Linked DNA regions of Homo sapiens. The protein of the gene in region 1 purifies or fractionates together with the protein of each later gene. This does not show direct contact. Each region holds a gene or a part of one and is shown on either strand. Other genes may lie near its edges.

The links.
Region 2: the proteins of SLC35G1 (region 1) and ATP2B1 purify together in Homo sapiens (co-immunoprecipitation; 2 studies listed by BioGRID and IntAct, with this or other methods). This does not show direct contact.

Annotation. Positions count from the first base shown.
Region 1 is NC_000010.11:93,895,718-93,906,557, forward strand, and holds the end of SLC35G1 (solute carrier family 35 member G1), read left to right. Parts: intron 1-2,853; coding exon 2,854-3,034; intron 3,035-5,034; coding exon 5,035-5,773; 3' UTR 5,774-8,107; downstream 8,108-10,840. UniProt on the Homo sapiens protein: May play a role in intracellular calcium sensing and homeostasis. May act as a negative regulator of plasma membrane calcium-transporting ATPases preventing calcium efflux from the cell.
Region 2 is NC_000012.12:89,598,450-89,609,289, forward strand, and holds part of ATP2B1 (plasma membrane calcium-transporting ATPase 1), read right to left. Parts: intron 5,898-10,840; coding exon 5,706-5,897; intron 5,477-5,705; coding exon 5,263-5,476; intron 4,806-5,262; coding exon 4,594-4,805; intron 2,985-4,593; coding exon 2,877-2,984; intron 851-2,876; coding exon 668-850; intron 295-667; coding exon of another isoform or gene 141-294; intron 1-140. UniProt on the Homo sapiens protein: Catalyzes the hydrolysis of ATP coupled with the transport of calcium from the cytoplasm to the extracellular space thereby maintaining intracellular calcium homeostasis.

The DNA.
Region 1 (10,840 bases):
TTTTTTCAAGTTCTGGTTGGAACTGTTACCCATATGTCTTACATTCTTGGATGACCTTAACAGACACATACAGCTGTCCCAAGACATCTCCTTACTTTCTTCAGGGACAGTGTGGGTCTTACACTGAAGCAAGGAGAAGTAGTTTCTTAGGCCTGTGCCTCACATCCTCTGGAGGGAGTTAGTGATCGAGTGTAGCAGTGGTTCTCAAACTAGTGGAGCCTTTTAGAGTTACAGAGATTCTATTTCGGTGGGTCTGAGATGGGGCTTGAGAATTAATTTTTTTTTTTTTTGGAGATAGGGTCTTACTCTGTCACCAAGGCTGTGGTGCATTGGCGTGATCACAGCTCACGGCGACCTCAACCTCCTGGGCTTACTCGATCCTTTCATCTAAGTCTCCTGAGTAGCTGGGACCACAGGCACACACCACCACACCCGACTAATTTAAAAATATTTTTTGCATTGATGAGGGGGTTTCCCCGTGTTGCCCAGGGTGGTCTCAAACTTTTGAGCTCAAGAGATCCTCCCACCTTGTCCTCCCAAGGTGCTGGGATTACAGGCATGAGCCACTGCACCCAGGAATTAAAGTTTTAAGTGTTACTCAGGTGATTCTAATTCCCAACCAGGATTGCGAATCACCAGCTGAAAGCAGAGGATAGAGAAGCTGAGTAATTTTTCAGTTTTCTTCTAAGTGAGGAAATTACACCATGGCCACTTACCTAATTTGAATAATTTGAGTTACCAAATTATTAGATATGCTTGCAGTGAGATATGAACATGGAACCTAAACAAATGCCTCTTTCAGTTATGCTAGTCATGCTCATCTCCATTGACAGGATTGAAATGATTTAGTAAGAAACTGAGGTTTGTCTGAGTGGAGCCAGTCCTCACCCTCGTTAACAAATCATCAAATGCAGCGAGGCCTTCTAATGTCTGTCCCTTCCCAGTTGGAAAGCATGAGCCTTAAGTGTTTATAGGCAAGAAAATACATGTGTATGTGTTTTAAGGGGAAAGGTCACTAGGGCCAAGGGGGTGCAATTACATTTTTAAAGAGTTAAAATATTTAATGTTAAGTTAAAATATTCCTGGGGAAAAATTAGCAAGTTTATGTTGGAGAAGATACTTGAAACAGAGCAGGGAGATGTTTTCTGTCCTTGATCTTCTCGGTCTGTTCTGTTTGAGGGTGGAGTTTCTATGTAGGGGTTGAGTTTCTTTTAAGAAAAACTGTTTTATTTGGAACTGAATTCTGAAATTTCAGAGGCCAGACCCTAAGGCTGACCACAGCCAAGGCATGTATTTTGTGGTGCTTCACTTGGAAGTCTTCTAAAGCTTCCTTCTCGTGGGCTGCGTGTGTGCAGTTTATTTCTGCAGTATACAAGCACATGGATACAGAACAGAATGAGGATTCTGGCATCTTAAGGGAAGGACTACTGCTAGTTCCAAAGCAGTATCTTCAGCTGTGCACCTAGAACAGGAAGAGGTAGAGAAGGGTGCCTTTGACCACAAGGCCAGGCTGTAGAATGCCCCAGAAAGCCTGTGCATCAGCATACTTTGGTCCCAGTTTGCAAAGTCATCTCACTAACCTGAGGATGTGTAAATGTGTTACCTGGTGTTTACATTTATCAGAGAAGGGCATTTTAAAAAACATTACACAATACTGTTTTATAGCTATCACATTATAAAGTCCTAGATTGGAATGATAATACGAGTTTTCCTACAAGTTGCTCATATCCACTCACCCTTCAGTTCCACTGTGCTCTTAATCAATGAGGGCCACTTGTGTTTCCTTCTTACCCTCAACCCTGTTTTTGTGTTAATTTCAAAAAAGAATATATCCCGCAGTGTGTGACCTTTGTTTTAGGGCATTCTCTGCCCACCCTGCTGCTTTTGCTCTCTGAATGACAGAGGAGTAAGACTGAAAGCAGGTTCTACTCCTGTGTAGGAAACTAAGACATAGTAAGTGGCTAAACAAGTTTAAAGCTCACACAGATTGTCATTAATGACTGAATACTTGATGCCCTGGAGAAAGCACTGGTTTCCTCGTTCAGATCGAGCCAAGAGTAGGGATTAGATGGCAGTTCTGTACAAAGCACTTGGGATCCAAAGGGCTAGATAACCCACACCCTCCCCTTGAGGAGTTTGTGCTCTGAATGGGAAGATAAGTCGTGAAAGCATGAAAAGTTAAATATAGATTTGATTAACAGTTCAAAATAACAAAATGGAGAACCTTCCCAGATTATGCTGTTGCCGATAGTGTTAGACTCTTGAGTCTTTCCCTGAAGTTCTCTCATCTTTCATTCACTGAATATTTATCCAGTGTCTTCCATGTGCCAGGCATGTACAAGACAGCAAGATCCCAGCCCTGGAAGAGCTCACAGACTTGTGGGAGGAAGTCAAATAATCAACAGATAACTGTATAACCCAATTATAACCCATTTTCCAGAAAAGAACACTTTCTTCATAAAGCCAATTTCGCCAGTGAGGTGTGGCGTAAGATATCACTTGGAAGGATTTTTTACTTGCCATCTTGACAAGTGTTTCTTAAAGATTTCTCTCACCATCTTGGCAAGCGTTCTACTTCTTGACTTGTAAGTGAGGATGATTCTTCAGTGAGCCATAGGAAATCCATTTGATAGGGCGAAACGGCATTTTAAAAATGCAGGTTTAAATTGTTATCCTCATCTATGGTTCTTCATAATTGATGGGGAAAATGGTACAGGCCCAGAGAAATGATATGCTTAGGAGGTAATAAAGCCTGTTGACCTTTGACACTGTTCCATTTTTCTCAGTTTCTAAGTGAAAATGATAACACATACACTTGGAAGCAAGGACTAACCAGAATTTAATCTTTTTCAGAAGCCAAGAAGAAAGCACCCTGTCCTGGACTTGGCTTGTTTTACACATTATTGTCTGCCTTCCTTTTCTCAGTGGGCTCTTTATTTGTTAAAAAAGTGCAAGACGTCCATGCTGTAGAGATTAGTGCGTTTCGATGTGTGTTCCAAATGCTAGTTGTTATCCCTTGCTTAATATACAGAAAGTAAGTATTTTTTAACTGCAAAGTAGAAGATATTAATAAATGTGTGTATATCTTTTCACCTGCCTATAATTACTCTATCTGCTTTATCCATCTCATATACTTACCAGTTCCTATGCCCCTTGGCTCTGCTTAATGAAAAGTCATAAGCATCTACCCACAGAAGATTCTACCATGAGCATAAACCACATACCCAACAAAGTGGGGAGAAAGAAATTTTGTTTTTCACCACCTCCCCTTTTGAAAACAGAGCTTTCTTTGTATAATTCCTCTTGTCTTGTATCACCCTCCCTTCTTTCCTTTGGCATAACTACTGTTTGGAAGTTAAAAAAATGAATGAAAAGAAGTAATAGTGTATCCTAGTATCAGAAGTTTTTTTAGAATGGGCTGCTTTCTTACCAGGGCAAATAGAAGATTATAGTAATAATATTTAGGTATTCCTCAAAAGGTGATGGGGTAACCCTGAGCAAGGTTACTTTCGTATTTAGTTTCCTCTTTTGTAAACTAGAGGGAATGATACTGTGTGACTTCTGCCCTACAAGGTGATTCCAAGGGTCAAATAAGATTTATTATAGGGTGGAGTGCCTTGTGTAGAGTGTAACAGTATATGAAAATTGTCTCTATTCCGCCCTCTCTGTTCTCTCCCAACCCAATTCCTCTTTTCCTTCCCTGTTGAACTCCCTACCCTCCCTGGGTTAAAATTATGCCTCCTTCAACCATTGTAACCTCCATATACCTCAGTGTATTTAGAACCCTGAGAGCGAGACCAGTTGGGTCCTTGGTGGCTGCCTGGCTCTTTGTCTCTTTGGGCAAAAAAGGCTACACCCCAAATGAAAAGCTTTAGTCACTTGTCACCAAAGTCTCCTTGTATCTCTAACATGGTGCGGATTCACTTAGAATAGTTTCACTCCATATCCTGATGATTTGGTGGGAAAAGTGAAAACCTGCTAATACCTGCAAATTTCTGTCAATGCGGACAAGTCACACTATTTTAAGAAATGATGGTAGGGCTTTAGAAATTTCTAAGGGTAGCAGCAGAACACCGATGCTAACATAATCATCTCCCCCATTTTGAAATAAAGATATTGTCAGGGGAAGGACACTGGAAGAATGTTGTTAAAATCCTTGGTCCTCATCTGTTTTGACCCATTTTATGTTTTATTATCATGGAAGACTCTTTGCTTCTCAAAGTATGGGCCAAATGTGACCGTGCTTTCATTTTAACTCCAAGATACCCGGGGTAGCCTAGATGATAATCTAATGAAGTCTAGCCCTGGCACACGTCAGCAAGTTGCACCTAGCCAGGAACCTACACAGAGTGGGTACTTAGTAAATATTTATTGAAAAAGAATTTGAATAGCAGTAATCATACTTTTCCAAACACTACATGTTCTTTTTCAGTGTGTTTTGACTCTTTCCTCATGAGAACAATGAAAACTTGTCTCATATTCAATGACTAAAATAAATTTTAGCAGTTTCAAGTTTTATAGAAAAATTCATGAGATTGAGAATGAGCATTAGCTGGGTCTAAGTTTCCTTACACAGGGCAGCTGAATCTTGACATTGTATTTATCATAAAAGTGATATGTTTATAGAAAATTTGGAGAAAATAAATATAAAGAAAGAAAATTACCTATGAGTTTATCTATTAAGATATAAACATGATTAACATTTAGTTTATTTTCCTTTTTGTCCTTTTTGCAAGCATATATATACATATACGTGGGATAAATATCTATATTAATTGAATTATAATTTTACTATGCATGTAATTCACTTGCACTGGTTTTGCTTTTACTGTGAACACTTTACTGTCATTAACTATACTTAGAAAATACTATTTTTAAAAAGTATATAATATTCATTTGTGGATATTATAATTAATTTACTATTCCCTCATTTTTTGATATTTAGTACTTTTAAAATAATGTTTAATTACAAATTGTAATTTAAAAACAAATATTAATTTCATTTAATATGCATTTCTTCATTTGAATTTACAGAACTGGGTTTATAGGCCCAAAAGGTCAACGAATTTTCCTCATTCTCAGAGGAGTCCTTGGTTCTACCGCCATGATGCTTATATACTATGCTTACCAGACAATGTCCCTCGCTGATGCCACAGTTATCACGTTTAGCAGTCCAGTGTTTACGTCCATATTTGCTTGGATATGTCTCAAGGAAAAATATAGCCCTTGGGATGCTCTTTTCACCGTGTTCACAATCACTGGAGTGATCCTTATCGTGAGACCACCATTTTTGTTTGGTTCCGACACTTCGGGGATGGAAGAAAGCTATTCAGGCCACCTTAAGGGAACATTCGCAGCAATTGGAAGTGCCGTATTTGCTGCATCGACTCTAGTTATCCTAAGAAAAATGGGAAAATCTGTGGACTACTTTCTGAGCATTTGGTATTATGTAGTACTTGGCCTCGTTGAAAGTGTCATCATCCTCTCTGTATTAGGAGAGTGGAGTCTGCCTTACTGTGGGTTGGACAGGCTATTTCTCATATTCATTGGGCTCTTTGGTTTGGGGGGTCAGATATTTATCACAAAAGCACTTCAAATAGAAAAAGCAGGGCCAGTAGCAATAATGAAGACAATGGATGTGGTCTTTGCTTTTATCTTTCAGATTATTTTCTTTAATAATGTGCCAACGTGGTGGACAGTGGGTGGTGCTCTCTGCGTAGTAGCCAGTAATGTTGGAGCGGCCATTCGTAAATGGTACCAAAGTTCCAAATGAAGCATCATTGCTGAAATACATATTTTTTTCAAGTACACCATCACCTAATTCACATACAGCATACGCACACATCTGGAAAATCTGCATTTTCTTCATTGGTTGTATTTAATAAATTGCCTAAAGTACCATTTTTGAATATAGTATGTCTTTAGTTAAGAATAGCTAGTCTGTTTGGTGTAACAATTTTTTGGTAGCTTTGGTTTTGGTTTTGGTTTTTTTTGTTGTTGTTGTTGGGGTCAAGTTGGTGAGAGGAGAGCTCATTGTTTGAAGAAAAACCAAAACATTTTATGGCTAGTAATATTTATGTAATTTTTAAAATGTATTTTTGGTACTGATGGGATATGGGTGGGGAGGCTATTTTAGATATTCTTTTAGCAGTGTAGAGCCTAAGAAACTTGGTTCTACTACCATGATCTTTATAAACTATGCCTTCCAGACAATTGATAATGCTGCTATAATTAGTATTATGTTGATAATTCATTTGCAACCTTATTCTATTTAGGAGGATGAAGTTGAAGCTTAGAATAGGTGCCTGCTTAATGGTGTTAATAATACAAATGAATTGGCCTTATTTTCAAGGATTTTATAAATGATTATCATACTTGTAACTCATATTTGTGCCTTTTCATTTTAATGCTGGAATTTTTATTATGTCACCTCTAAAACACTTAAATTGCCAAATTTGGCTAGTAGTTTTGTTTCAGTGGCATTAGCAACTGCAGCTAGCATACTATAATTTTAATTGTCCTCACTTTTTTTTGAAACTGCACTAAATTTTTCTTAACATTCCAAGATTTCAGATCTCTAAATCACAAAGAGAAATCTTGGCATGACCAGTGTGCACGTTTCCATCCTGAAGTGTTTTCTCTTCACTAGAAATGTGATTTTCTATAAATTCCCCTTGAATTTATAGTGTGATGCCAAATAAAATTTTCTCAGGATCTTATTAGGTTGAACCATATGTAATTGCCAAGATTTTACTATTTTAACTTAGAAAAACCATCGTTTCATATGATTCACCCTAATAGATACCTCCATTATTCTCTAAATGAAATAGAAGACTTTGGAGTATATGTTTTTAAAGTAATTTTTTAAAATATGGTAATGTATTAAACTTATTTTTATAGTTATGAAATTATGTGTAATAATGCTTTATGTTATACATTAAATGTAAAGACTTGTGAATCCATGTTTGATTGACTTTCATAGTTTCCTGCATTGAAATAAAATCACTATGAATTCTAGTTTATCAGCATGATGTTAAATGTCAGTGCCATACCATGATGCAGCACCATGACACTAACGCCATGAATTCAAACAGCACGTTTTACACCTGGAACTTCATCAGACCAATACTTTGCAGTTAGAGAGAATTTAATATCTAGAAAAGCTTGGGAGGTTAGTCAGGACTTAGGGAGTATACATAAATGGTTACTTGTTGTAATGAGCCCTTTATTGGTGAGGTTGCAATAGCTTCCAGCTCTTACTGTGTCAGATGAAGCATCTGTCATTATCTTAAGCCTGCAGAGTTGAAAGGTTATAGGCTCTTTCCTACCCTCTCATCATAATTTTTCCAAAGCAAAGAGGAACTTGGCTTCTGGGGTTCGTGCCTTAGTGAGAAAGAATCTTTTCCAATAGTTCCAATGGGGGAATTTTTGGCTTGCTGATTTTATCAATTGCCTTGACACCTGACAAACCCTAAATGAAGTCTATGTAGGTGAGTCATCTCTGTTCCACCTGATTTACAGTATTGGAATTTAGACTTGCAAAAACATCATTCTGCAAATATCTTAGATAATTACAGAATCAGGAGCATTTGAGAACTCTAGAGGTCTCAGAAATCATCACATAGGGGCCATGCTTCGTAGATAGGGATGATAGAGAGGAGACCTGCCCAAGTTGAATTTCCATGGCCTTCCTCCCTTCCTTAGTTCCATGATAAAGTATGGACAGTAAACCACTACTTGAGCTACCTAAGGTGAATTAACTCTCAGGGAACCCTCTTCCAGTTCTTTACCTTGCACAGTGAAAGAATCAGTGGCACCTAGAAAGTTAAATCCCTTTAGGCCCATACACTAGAGACATGTTTTGTTTGAACAATGTAGTTTAAGTACTTGAATGTCACACTATATAACTGAGGTTAGAGAAAATGTTTCTTCTAGCCCTTACAGGGTGTGATTCTTAAACACAATGTCCAAGGTGTATACAAGGATATGTATTGTAACAACTATGGGTATGTATATTTTGCAGAGCGTAGTTTCTATATCTTGAAAAGGAAAATATTTTCATAAATTGTTTTTATAAGTACTAATAAAATAATATGAAAGAAAGCTATATGTTGGTTGTTATGATTATAGCAAATATATAACTTATTTCCCTTTCAACCCTATGCTTCAAAATATATTTTCTGTAGGAGATTGACCTCTAGCCATTCAGCTGGGATATAATCTCAAAGTTTAAACTGTCTGACCCACTTGTACTATCAAGAGGGTCAGATGAACAGTGTAATCTGTTTATCTCTCCAAAATAAAGGCATTAGTCTTCTGTGTTAGTGAGACCTTCATTCTTCTAGATCCTGAGAACTTAAAGTAGCTTTGAACTCTGTACTTTTTGTTCCTGTAGCTAATCCGTTACTAAATCCTGAAGAGTCTTTCTTCTTATTGTCTTCTTATTGTCTTGTGGATTTATTCTTTCCTCACCATTTCCACTGCCACCATCTTAGCCCAAGACTTAGCACCTTACACCTGAATTACCACAACAGTTTACTGGTTACCTGCTTCAAGACTCTTTCTTCCACTCTGATTCCTGTCTCAGTGCCAGCTTAATGTTCCTAAAGCCCTGTTTTCACTGTTACTCTAGTTCTCATGAAACCACAGTGATGCCTTATTACACACCATATCACATCAAATTTTCATCTGGCCCTACTCCCACTTCTCCGACCTGATTTCTACATCCCAACACAAATGGGATACTCAGATCAGTCTTACCACTAGCTCCCATGTTTGCCAGTAGAGTCCTTCCTCTGCATTTCCCCCCTGTCCTTACCTTCTCTTATTTACCCTCTAAGGCCTGTTAGCCTCCAATGGCTCAGCTTAGGCTTTTGTTTCTTCTGGACTCTAGCTTCTCCTACCCACATAATCCATCTTGGAAGAGTGGGTAAAGCACTGGATTGGGATCTGAAGGTCTAGTGTGGTTTTATCACTTTTCAGCTGGACAAATCACCTAATGCACCTGAGCCTGTTTTCCTCACTTGCCCAGTCCCTCTTGCAAATGAGTGCCATAGAAGGGCTTATAGACTATTAAGAAGGATGAAAACATTAAGTATTGAACTGTGGTTAAGACTGTAGAATTGAGTATTCACTCTCCTCTTCAAAATGAGGCGTATACCAGAGTCCTTACTCCCGAGCAGCCTCACCAGGAACCGTAGGAACATGCCTATCAGAATGCAAACTCCATTCGGCCCCCTCCTGCTAGCACAGAATTGTGCTGTTGGCCAGCTTTCACTTCCTAGCTGATCTTCCCATATAGGGCTGCCAAGGATCACCAGTCCTTTCATGCGCAGGTGTTACCACCTTTCCAGTTCTGGCCCTAGCTCTGATCTTATATGGGTATTATGCTTGGCTCTGACCTGGGGAATGGGCCTGATTTATGTGTGTTTCCCATGCACTGTGTACTCAGCATGGTTCTTTTAGCCTCTTACGTATTGCACTCGGTAAGCATATTTACTCTCTTGAGGGCATTCTAGTGGGAAGAGAGCCAGATGTTCTTGATATCACCCTGGTCTCTGATCTAGGTGTGTATGGATCCATGGTCAATAATGGGCATTAGAATTTGGTTATATGGGTGAAGGTTGGATATATGAATCCTGGACACTACCCTAAGCATGCTGTTTTATGCCCCGTTTGGTGCCTTATATCAGATCTAATACAGCTACCATATTCACCTAGAATTCTGCAAGATAACCTATCAGGGACTCTGATCCACATTGATGGATCCACGGTTTAGCCTCTTTGAACATTAAGTTTGGAGCTGGACCTGGGAAAACAATTCACAGCCCATGAACCTTGGCACTTCTCATCTCCTGGAAATTCAGGGGTGGGCTTTATAGCAAGAGGGTAAGGAGAAGACATACTTGGTATCAAGGGAGGGCAGTAAATGTAGCAGAGATGCCCAGTACACAGGAAAACGTTCCACTGGGCTCAGGAAATGTCATTACTAGAGAAAGAGCCTGGGTCTCTTCCACTAAACTTTCATGATTCTAGAAACCATGTGAGATTAATACCAGTAAGCCTGATGAAGCAAAGGAAGTAACCTAGATTCATGATTAGTTGCCAGGGTGGGGTCAGGAAAGTATAAAACCATAGTTGAGCAGAAGTAGACTTGGGCAGGAGGAAATGTGTTCAGGTGAATGGTGCAGCATGAAAGTACCATGCCAGGGTTGGGAGCTCCATGGTGCAGCAGAAGTACATGGAAAGGCCAGGCCAGAGGAGTGCATTACTAACCAGAAGGCCTGTATCTGAGGTTATAAGAACCTGGCTGTTCTTACCGCTGTTCCAAGTATACTTGACCATGATTTAAGATTAAGCTGTATGTGCCAAGAACATACCAGAAAGAGAGAAACTAATAATACAACTATATTTGATTTTTTCTATGATTATAGTAGGTACTAGCTCAATAATATTAGAATTGAATTCAAAGCAATAGCATAATTCAGAATGGACTAACATTTTCTTTCTTCTGATATTCCCCCTGGGAAATCAGCCACATTGCTGTGAGGAAGCCTGGGCTACATGGAGAAGCCCACATGAAGAGGCCCATGTGGAGAGGAACTGAGGCCCTGACACTTGGCCCCATCTGCACTACCAGCTGATAGCCAGCATGAGCCTGCCAGCCAGGTGAGTGTGCACACTGGGAATGGATCCTCCAACTCTCAGGTGAGCTGCCCCAGCTGATGCTGTGTGGAGCAGAGACAAGCCCTCCTCCTACCTCCTGAGCTCTGCTCAAATTGCAGATTTGTGAGAAAAAGAAACCAGTTATTACTGTTTTAAGCCACTAAAAAAAAAATAT
Region 2 (10,840 bases), on another chromosome or scaffold:
GAGGTCTCAATCCACTTTACGAAAAGAAAGCTTTATGAAAAAGCCTGAACAATGAATTCAAACATTAAGGAGAAAATGAGAAACGTTAGGTGTGTGAAGTAGGAAATGTTAATTTCATGCACTTAGGAACACACACTCACACCCCACAGTAGTAGAAGCAGTAGAAGAGGAAAACACTACATGTGTAGGGGTAGAAATATTTGTTACATCATGATGCTGGCTGGCGATGGAGGGTTGCCGCCTTAGAGCCCCCTGAATGGAACTTCCACTCTGGAAAGCATTCACTACATCCATCTGCAAGGAATCAGAGATTGTGACAGCTTGCTCAGCAAGAGAGAGAGAGAACAAGAGAAAGGACCATTCCATCTATCAACATATAAAAAGAAAAAGGCACTTTTTACACAGCATATAGGCAAGAATAGCATTTTGAGATGAAGTGGGGGATGGGGGAGCTAGGAAAAAAGGAGCTTAGGGGCATATAGACACATTCTTTCATAATCAGTTAAAAGTCTCACTCATTCCAGGCACCAGTATTACTTTTCAAGAGAATACAATTTGTGGGTTGGGAAGGCTAGAGAGGAAGTTTAAGGAGCACACTCGAACCTCCTCCCCAGGTCAAAAAGCCCTGGCTCCCATCATCTCTCCTACCTCTCTACCAGGCCCATACCTGTGTTTGGATTCTGTTCAGACCTCTAAACCACAAGATTTGGCCACGCCGCAACTCCCTTTCAGCGTGATCAATCTCTTCAACATCCTCTGCTAATTCCTCCTCAGGTATTTCTTCCTTTTGTGTTCCATGACCAGCTTCTTTGAGGAATTTTAAACGGCTAGTTGGAATTGTTGAAATAAGCTACAACACAGGGGAATGAACTTAGAAATAAATCATATCAAGTAAAGGTAAGCTGATCAACTGTAATACTAAAGGTATTAAAAGTGGTGAGAGTATCCGACTATCTTTACCAATGAAGTAATGGGATCCTGTTGATTAGTCTTTCTCTCCCAGAGCAAAATACATTCTTCTCTTAGCTACACAAAAGATTTGAGTTTGAAGGATAAAAAGTTTTCCTAAATGGAAATTAACCTGATTACATTTTTCATATTTTCATCAGGACATTCAAGACAGTACATTGTAAAACCATGCTCTGATATATGTATTTACTTAAAAAGTCCTATTTATTTTGAATACAATGAAAATGGCAGGTGGTCTTACTAGATGCAAAACACGTTTACATTTCATTAATGCTGTCAGAGTTCAATGAGAAAAAATGTATAAAATTTTTAAAAAAATCATTAAGGTTACACTGAAAATAGTTTTGTTACATATTTTTTTTAAAATGCAACAGTTTAAAATTGGATTAGTACTGATTGATGACGCCAAACAAAAACAGATGCCCTAGAAAACACAAAGGATACAAGAAACACCAATACACGTATATTAGCTTATGTGTTAACATCCATTCTCTAAGGCAGCAGTTGGGTTTATCAGGGAGAAACAAGCATGTAGTCAGCTACAGAATTCTGCTTGGAGAACTTCTAGTACACCCACCTCATTTCACCAAGGTGAAATAGGCTTCAAGGCACATAAAGTGACTTGCTCATGGAGTGACTAGGAACCTAGGTCTCCTGACCACCAAAGGCAGTGCTTGTTCTACCATGGTACACTTAGTATGGGTCTTACTTAAAAGATGATCTCTATTAATGAGGTACTCAAAATAGATAAGAAACCTCAGAATCTAGAAACATAGTTAAGAAAAAGAAGAGACACAAAGATGTAAAGATTGGGCTACATTTAAGGAAAACCTGAAAGTCTGGTTTCACTGATTTGCAGAATGACAATAAATTAGCTCATGCAAATTATATGCCATAATATATATTAACCTTCATCTATGAAAATGTTAGATTTTCTATAAATTAGTTTTATAGTAATGGGCTTAAAATGAACAATGCATAAATCACTGTCACATTTAAAAAATAATGACATGCATTTGCAAGTAAGCTGCCTATAGTAAATATGAGGTATATCTCTTATTTCAGGCACTTTATTTCATATATACACTGTTAAAGCTATTCAATTCAAATCTAAAACATCATTTTGTGACCCCTTTTTCCAGGTAACATTATTTTTATAAAAACATTCTCTAAGGTCAGTTTTTCCTATGCTGCATATTGGATTAAATTACAGAACAAAATGACAATGTATTTTTTTTTTTTTTTTTGAGATGAAGTCTCGCTCTTCTCTCCCTGGCTAGAGTGCAATGGCGCGATCTTGGCTCACTGCAACCTCTGCCTCCTGGGTTCAAGCGATTCTCCTGCCTCAGCCTCCCAAGTAGCTGGGATTACAGGCGCCTGCCACCATGCCCAGCTAATTTTTATACTTTTAGTAGAGACGGGGTTTCACCATGTTGGCCAGGCTGGTCTCTAACTCCTTACCTCAGGTGATCCACCCGCCTCGGCCTCCCAAAGTGCTGGGATTACAGGCGTGAGCCACCGCACCCGGCCATGTATTTTTTACATTGTTGTAAAAAATTTTTTTCTGAAAATGTAAAAATAGGTTATAGAGTAAAAGATACAGATATTAGCATCCTAACCAGTTATAAATACATCATTTTTAAAAACCGCTACAAAACTTCTAAAAAACAAGTTAAAAAAACACATAAAAAGTTAGGATAGTATTTTATAGTACAGGCATAATCATAATGAACAAGTGACATACTGGAACTAATACGACATTAAAAAAACTTATCTTTGAATGCCCTCTCTTTACTCACCACATTAACCATTTAGAATCAAGTAATGAAACTGTTAAAGAAAATACACACTAGAAATTAAAAAAAAAAATCACTTTAGGTTTAAACAAAAACTGATGAAATTTTTACCTGGCCCCAGAGTAATGTTCCCATTCCTAGGAATATTGACCATAGCCACTGTTCTATTGAAAGTTCTGAACAACTGAAAGGTTTTCCACCAAACTGCACAATTATTATCTGGAGGAATAATCAAGAGTAAATTTACTTAAATCTTAAATTTTAAAATTCATATACTTAAAAAAATATCAAATTTATGTCCTCTAAAACAAGGTGAACAACCACTATTCTGATGAATTGTATTATATTAGTCACAACTGAAAATAAGACAACTGAAATAGACCTTTCCTCTTTCCCCTCCAGTCCACTTTGCCTCTTAGAAAAAAAGACAACTGAAATAAAGTAAAATCTCTGCCCAATATTTTTGATGCATGCGTATTTCATGTTTAAATTACGCTTACTAAAAAGTAAAATTCTTATGACCAAGAATAATAATTTTATACTGTTTCCAATATAACCCCAAGCAACTACATTCCCCTGTATTTAGTACAACTCTTCAAATAATCTGTGCCTTTCTCAAAATATAGTACTCTTTTGTAGAAAAGACTGTATGTTACTGGAAAAATGCACAATATTAAAAAAATTCCACATAGCTGTTTATTTCTAGTTAACATTTAGACATACTAAGATAAACACAGACTATATGAGAAGAAAGGCAACTTGGAAAGTTCTATGAAATATGGGCTAACTCAGGTGAGGTGATCTCAGATTTGCTCTCCTTTATGAAAAGAGTGAGGTCTGATGATGAATATAAATTCATAATACAGTGCTTATGTTTTGCTTGTTATTCTAAAAGGCCTAAAATAGTGTGCATGGAAATATTAAGAATTAACTGGGGTTGGGTGTGGTGACTCATACCTGTAATTCTAGCACTTTTGGAGGCTGAGGTGAGAGGACTGCTTGAGCCCAGGAGTTCAAGACCAGCCTAGGCAACATAGCAAGACCCTGTCTTAATTAAAAAATAAATAATTTTTTAAAAAAAGAATCAATTAACAATATTCACCCTCCTGTGAGTCTGACAGGCCTCTCTTTGATATGGCAGTTAACTAGTTCCCAAATATTAAAATCAAAAATAATTTTGGTAGTTAACATTTTAAAACCTTAAAGTTACAATTCCTTTCTTTTTAGCTCTACTTTATTCAAATTCAAGTCATTTTCACTTCTCGGTTCCACTATTTTTTAAGTTAATTTGTGCACTTGTACAGATAGATTTCCAACTGCTTTGTTAGTAGCCCAATTAGATTACAACTGATTTGACAATCAGGTCTGGATTTTAGTAGAGATATAAAACTGAAGTAATTTTCTTTTATAAATCAAGAAAATAATGAGCATGAAGAATTCAATATGTATTTGTACAAGTGATCTTAATTTTTTTTAAAATTTAAACCTGATCTTTTTTTTGGTATAATGTGGGATGTAAAAAGAATACTAAAATGCTGGGAAACAATTAATTGATTGGCTGACTTTGTTTCCTAAGAAATAATATCTTTCACTTTACAGTTGGAAGAAATAAAACTGTTTGTCTAGTTGGTTGTGGCATTTACTTCTAAGAACAGGAGATTCAGTTCCCATATTCTTTAACATATACCTTAAATCACCATGATATTATATATGTCACCAAGGCAACAGTTCCACACATGTTCCACACAAGTGATTGCTAGAACAAGCTGTTTACCTAATGTCTCCCATTTAACAGGCAAATTTGAAACTATCTTTTCCAATTACCCACCTGTACCACAAAAGTGCCTAAAACAATTGTGCAGAAGATGGCATTGTTAAAGATTCCTTCGAATACATTTCTTTCACCATGAATTTTCCGGGCATTTATTTCGTTGAAAAGTTGCATCAGCACAAAGGTATTAAAAACAATAGTATAATGTTCTGAAGGAGGAGCATGCAAAGGAGCATTTCTTCCACTATCAATGTCAAAAAACTTTTCTCCTGAAAGAATGAAAAATGACTATTTTGTAATTATCATACCAAATTAGATTTCAAGGAGGTATACAAATTACAACTTAGCTAGACCTTTTATTTGATCTGAAATGGCAGCATGGAAGGAGCTAGAGAAACCTGGGATTATCTAGTACAACTCTCTTGTTTTATAGGCAAGGAAACAGAAGCTCCCAAAACTATGGTGATAATCTCAGGATCACATATCTAAATTAGTGGAGAGCCAGGGTAAGACATCAGGACTGTTTATTCTCCTGTTTATTCTACTATCTAGCTTATTGTCCTCCCAAATTTACTAAGCACTCACTGATTAAGAAGAAATTAAAGATAAATGGGAAGTCAGGAGTAGAATTTAGGCTCTTGAAAATTTGTAACATTATAACATCTTGGATGATTAGCTTGGAAAAGAAACAATTAACTGAAGCTTTATTAGACACTGAATTCTTACCAGCAAATAAGAGTGTAAAGACTACTACAAGTTGATAGAATGCATGACCCAAAATATTCTTCATCATTGTACGTGAGATGAGAGGCTTATTTCTACCATAAGGTTTCCGAAGCAAGAGAGACTCAGTGGGTGGTTCCGTTGCCAGAGCCAGGGAAGCGAGTGTATCCATTATGAGGTTTACCCACAGCATCTGCACAGCCTTAAGCGGTGAGTCCTAGAAAAGATATGTTTCCTAATAGACATTCACAACTACTCAGGGGCTCAGCAATTCTCAGGAAACCTTTAGGGTTTAAAAACTTGAGAAACAGAACAGGATTATATTTTTATATTAACTAACCTAAAATATTAAGCTTCAGCTTAAATATTAAGTATTTTTTAAGAGGCATTTAATATACTTTTTAAATTTAAAGTAAACAAGTTTTGATAGACAAGTCATCACCTACTTGAGTAATGCAGGCGCCCGTAAAAGCAACAATCACTGCTACTACATTAACAGTAAGTTGGAACTGAAGGAATTTTGAGATGCTGTCATAGACATTTCGTCCCCACATAACTGCTTTAACAATGCTTGTAAAGTTGTCATCTGTGAGAATAATATCGGATGCTTCTTTAGCTACATCAGTTCCAGCAATACCCTGTTAAAAAAAATTTTGTGAATTAGACTAAATGTTTTAAGTATAACTTTCAAATAGTCAAAAAATACACACTTAATAAACAAAAAGTTTACCATTATACCTAATAAATATTACTTAAATTTACACTAAAAGAAGGTAACAGAGTTATTCTAAGATATTACTAGGAAAGACATTCTGGTTTAGCAGAAATCAAACAAAGAATGAAGTATTAAAAATAAGGTTCAAGTTGGGTTAAAAATGGAGGAATGAACAAAGACATTACCCAAGTTCCTTCCAAAAGCCACACAAAAAGGTATCTGTTAATAAAAAGCAAACAAACTCTATGAAGACAAAGTTAGAGGAAAAGGAGATTCTACCAAAAAACAAACAAACAAACAAAAAACCCATAAAACCTTAGAGGCTAGAAAGCAGACAGCCAAATGGTAAGTAACTCAGCAGACACAAGAAAGCTGAATCCTAATCCAAGTGTAGAGAAAGTAGAAGTAGCCCCCTTTCCCCCCAACAACAGAACCCCCCTGTCAGCTCCAGACTTGGCAGATTTACGTGGCACTGGAAGTAGGGGTGAAGGTAGGAATAAAAAAAGGAAGATCTCTTGAAAGTCTACTGAAGACGCATTTAGAAGCTTCAAACTAATAACAATGTCATCAACAGGAGAATGGGGTAATTAATAAATTGTGGATTAATAAAATGAGTGAACTACAACTATATTAACATAAATGATCTGACAAACATAATGCTGAATAAAGAAGATGAACTCAACACATAATGTATGACTCTTCTGTACAAAGTTCAAAAACAGGCAAAAGGAATAATCTTCAGGATACTGGTTATCTTTGCAGAGAGACAAGGCAGTAATTAGAAGGGAGTAGGATTCACTAAAAAATTATCAAAAAGCTTAACCTCACGAACCTTGCCACGAGCTGAAAGTGTTCCCCAAATTCATGTGTTGGAAACATAATCTCTAATCAACCAAGTGCAGACATGGAAACTCAGAGGTGATATGATGAAGGCTCTGCCCTCATGTATGGATTAATATCATTATTTTGGGAGTGGTTTCATTATCAAGAGTGACATCATTATAAAGGTGAGTTTGACCCCCTCTTGCTTTTGTGCTCACTTGCGGTGTTCTCTTGCCCTTCTCCCATGACATGACACAGCATGAAGGTCCTCACCAGATGCTGGCACCCTGGCTCTTGGATTTACTCACTTCCAGAACCTCAAGTCAAATAAACTTTTATTGTTCATGAATTATTAAGTCTTAGATATTCTGTTATCACAATACAAAATGGACAAAGACAAACCCTTTCTCAGGAAGCAGCTGGAGAAGATGACTCCACCAGATAAGGGAATAAACCAAAGAAGATGATGCCACTGAATTCATGAAGTACAAGATCCAACACAAAGGAGAATAAAGAAAATCCTCAGGTATGGAGACCAAGAAGACAGCTGTGCAGCAAGGCTAGCAAACAGCGAGTGCAGATTAAAGCATGTTGAAAGATGCTGAGAGACGTATCTCTTAGACACTAAAATTGGTAAGAGTGCTAAAGGTCTCTGATGTATGAAACAGAGAATTTGGGGATGAATTAGTTAAGTACATAGAAAAACTAAGCCAAAAAAATTCAAACAAACCAAATAAAAATTAAAAGAAAGCAAGTAAAAGACAACAAATTATAGGGAACATAAAAAGCTGTGTAAGGAAGGAAAAGTAATTACAGTAGACCACACAGATCAGGTTGAAACAGCATTTACAGTCACAGTAAGTCACAGTAAGGACTGAATATTGATCAAATCTAAATTATGATATAACTCTGCTGGCAGATGATGGGATAGGTAGTGAGCATGAAGGTATATGCGGTGAATGTGGTCTATATGCTTGTGAAAGCACTAAGTCCTCACCTTCATTAATGAAAGTCAGTAGTTAAAGCCTTATATTAAAAAAATCAAAAAGCACCAGAATTATGTGATTCAGAGATATAAAGGTACATAACTAAGTAAAAGAAGCAGCTAAAACAGTTTCCTTTGGGAGCCAAAAATTTGGTATGTGGCAGGGAACTTGCTATTAAGTCTTATAGAACTACTTGACCTTTTAAATGCTACGCATACATTGTTTTGATAAACATGAAGTTCAGATGAAACCTTTCTCAAAATACTCAATGAAGAAACAATCTTATTTTAGAATCTTAGTCTCCAGCTCCCAATGTGAATATTTTACTTTTAATGTCCCACTTTTTTTTTTTTTTTTTTTGAGATAGAGTCTCGCTCTGTTGCCCAGGCTGGAGTGCAGTGGTGCGATCTCAGCTCACTGCAAGCTCTGCCTTCCGGGTTCACGCCATTCTCCTGCCTCAGCCTCCGGAGTAGCTAAGATTACAGTCACACATCACCACACCCACTATTTTGTATTTTTAGTAGAGACAGGATTTTAATATACCATGTTGGCGAGACTGGTCTTGAATTCCTGACCTCAAGAGATCCACCCGCCTCGGCCTCCCAAAGTGCTGGGATTACAGGTGTGAGCCACCATGCCTGGCCAATGTCCCATATATTTAACACACTTAAACTCAATGGGATTTCTTGATTCTCATCATACCCATATTATACAAATGCAAATCTCACCATTCCCTTGCTCAAAATCCTTAACATTTCTAAAAGTAACTCTATGGTGTTAATTGGTATTCAAATAAAAACTAGTTCTATGATGAAACAAGTCTGGAAAACTTTCAATCACAAAACGTTAAACTGCTTTTTAAAAATGAGCTTCTAGGAGTCATATGATATCGCATAGTGTGTCTCTAAACTTACATCATCAGAAGTAGGCTTGGCAAATGTTCATCTACAGGATAAGAGAAAAAAAATTCCTTATCATGGCATTCAAGGCCTTTTTAATGTGGCCCCCTGTGAATTCTTCTAGCTTCGTATCTCATTACAGCACCGCAACCTCTTCTAGTTAGATTGAAAAACTTGTACATAATTCGCTGATGAATGAGGGCCTCTTGGTTCCTCTCCTTCCCTCAGCTAAACTGGCACCTCTTCCAGAAAACCCTTCCCAGTCTCTACAGGCAGAGTCAAGGACTTCTGCCTGAGACACTTGTCACTGTCCTGTAATTATTTCCATGTGCTGTGAATTTTTAGGAGACAGCAACTCTTCACTTCTAATGTTCCGGGACTGGAATACTGAACACAGTCTCAATATTTGGAGTCCCGCATTAATCCAAATAAAATTTAAATAAAAGTATTTTAATTACCTTAGGTTTTACTACCATAGATGTATTTGATTATTGGATTACACCATGAGATTCAGTCTTTGATGACAGCAGTATCTCTATACATGGTTAACTAATTTTTGGCAAGAATAATTTCATGTGACAAGGATTCTCTCCTTCGACCAAAACTTGCTATGTAGATAATTGTTACACTATATTATTTAGGGAATCATGACAAGAAAAAGTCTGCACATGTTCACTACAGATGCAACCATCCATATTTTTTGTCCCGAATATTTGCGATCCACAGTTGGTTGATTCTGCGGATGCAGAATCCATGGATACAAAGGGCCAAATGTACAAGCAGAACACACACTTTATCTATAGATCAACAAATCAAGAAAGTATGCTCTAAAATGCTATATCTGCCTGAAAATAGGAGATACATTTAGAAAGAAATTATCAACAGCGATTTCTTGTAACTAAAAAAAAAACTCTAAGACAATACGTTTGTCTAAGTTTTAACTGTACAAATGCAAAACCAAAGTAAATTCAAGCTTTAACAAGAGTAGTTTCAAGTCCAAGCTACCAAGCACTTACAGTTTCTCTATGTTTTTAAACTAAATTAATTTATTTATTTCAGACAGAGTCTCGCTCTGTCACCTAGGCTGGAGTGCAGTGGTGCCATCTTGGCTCACTGCAGCCTGCGCCTCCTGGGTTCAAGTGATTCTCATGCCTCAGACTTCCAAGTAGTTGGGATTACAGGCGCGACCACCACATCCAGCTAATTTTTGTATGTTTTTTTTTAAAGTAGAGATGGGGTTTTGCCATGTTGGCCAGGCTGTTCTTGAACACCTGACCTTATGTGATCCGCCCGCCTCAGCCTCCCAAAGTGCTGGGATTACAGGCGTGAGCCATCATGGCCAGCCTGTTTTTGAACTAAATTTAGACTTTTGATGTTATCATTTAAAAAAAAAAAAAGTGGTATAACTGGGCCTAAAACCATGAAGAGCTTAAAAAACACTAACCAACAAGCCATTGTATTGTGTATTTGTTTGATTATATTTACCTGTATTTATTTAAAGCCCATTGTATCTGTCTTACATTCAAGTTTTGGGAAGAAAGCTTTTTTTATTTTAAAATTCATTTTACATAACTGCCTTTCTGGTCAGCTGTCAGAATGTAAATAGCAATAAGAATCCTGCTAAATGCTCAAGAGCAGCAGTGAGTGATCCTATGTTCCTAAAGGGAATGAGCCTGTTTGCCTACAGCAAAAGGAAGAGCACTTAATTATTCCATAGACCTCTTCAGCTATGCTTCACATGTCTTCAGAAGCTCCTACCAATGCAGCTGCCAACCATTTAAATTTGGGATGGGGTAGGGCGGGGGATCTTTGGATTCCCTGCTTTTGATTGAGGGAAATTTACCCATAATTTCCTTTCCTCATCTCTCTCACTCCTGTTGAAAGGCTGCCACCATGGTAGATCTTCTAAATTTCCATTTTAGCAGCAAAATATCAGGGGGACAAATTATGCAAATAAACATTTGTACACAAAAACAATCTCTCATCTGAAAACCTTAGGGCCAGACTGTGATTCGGAATTCAGTCTCTCATAGTTTGGAAAGATAATGAGACACATAACCTTATATCTCAATTTTCCCAAAAGAGCTTAGCACCCCATAAAAATCACATTAAAATCTCCACAATGGCTATGAATATTCACACTAAGTAGGACAAATAAC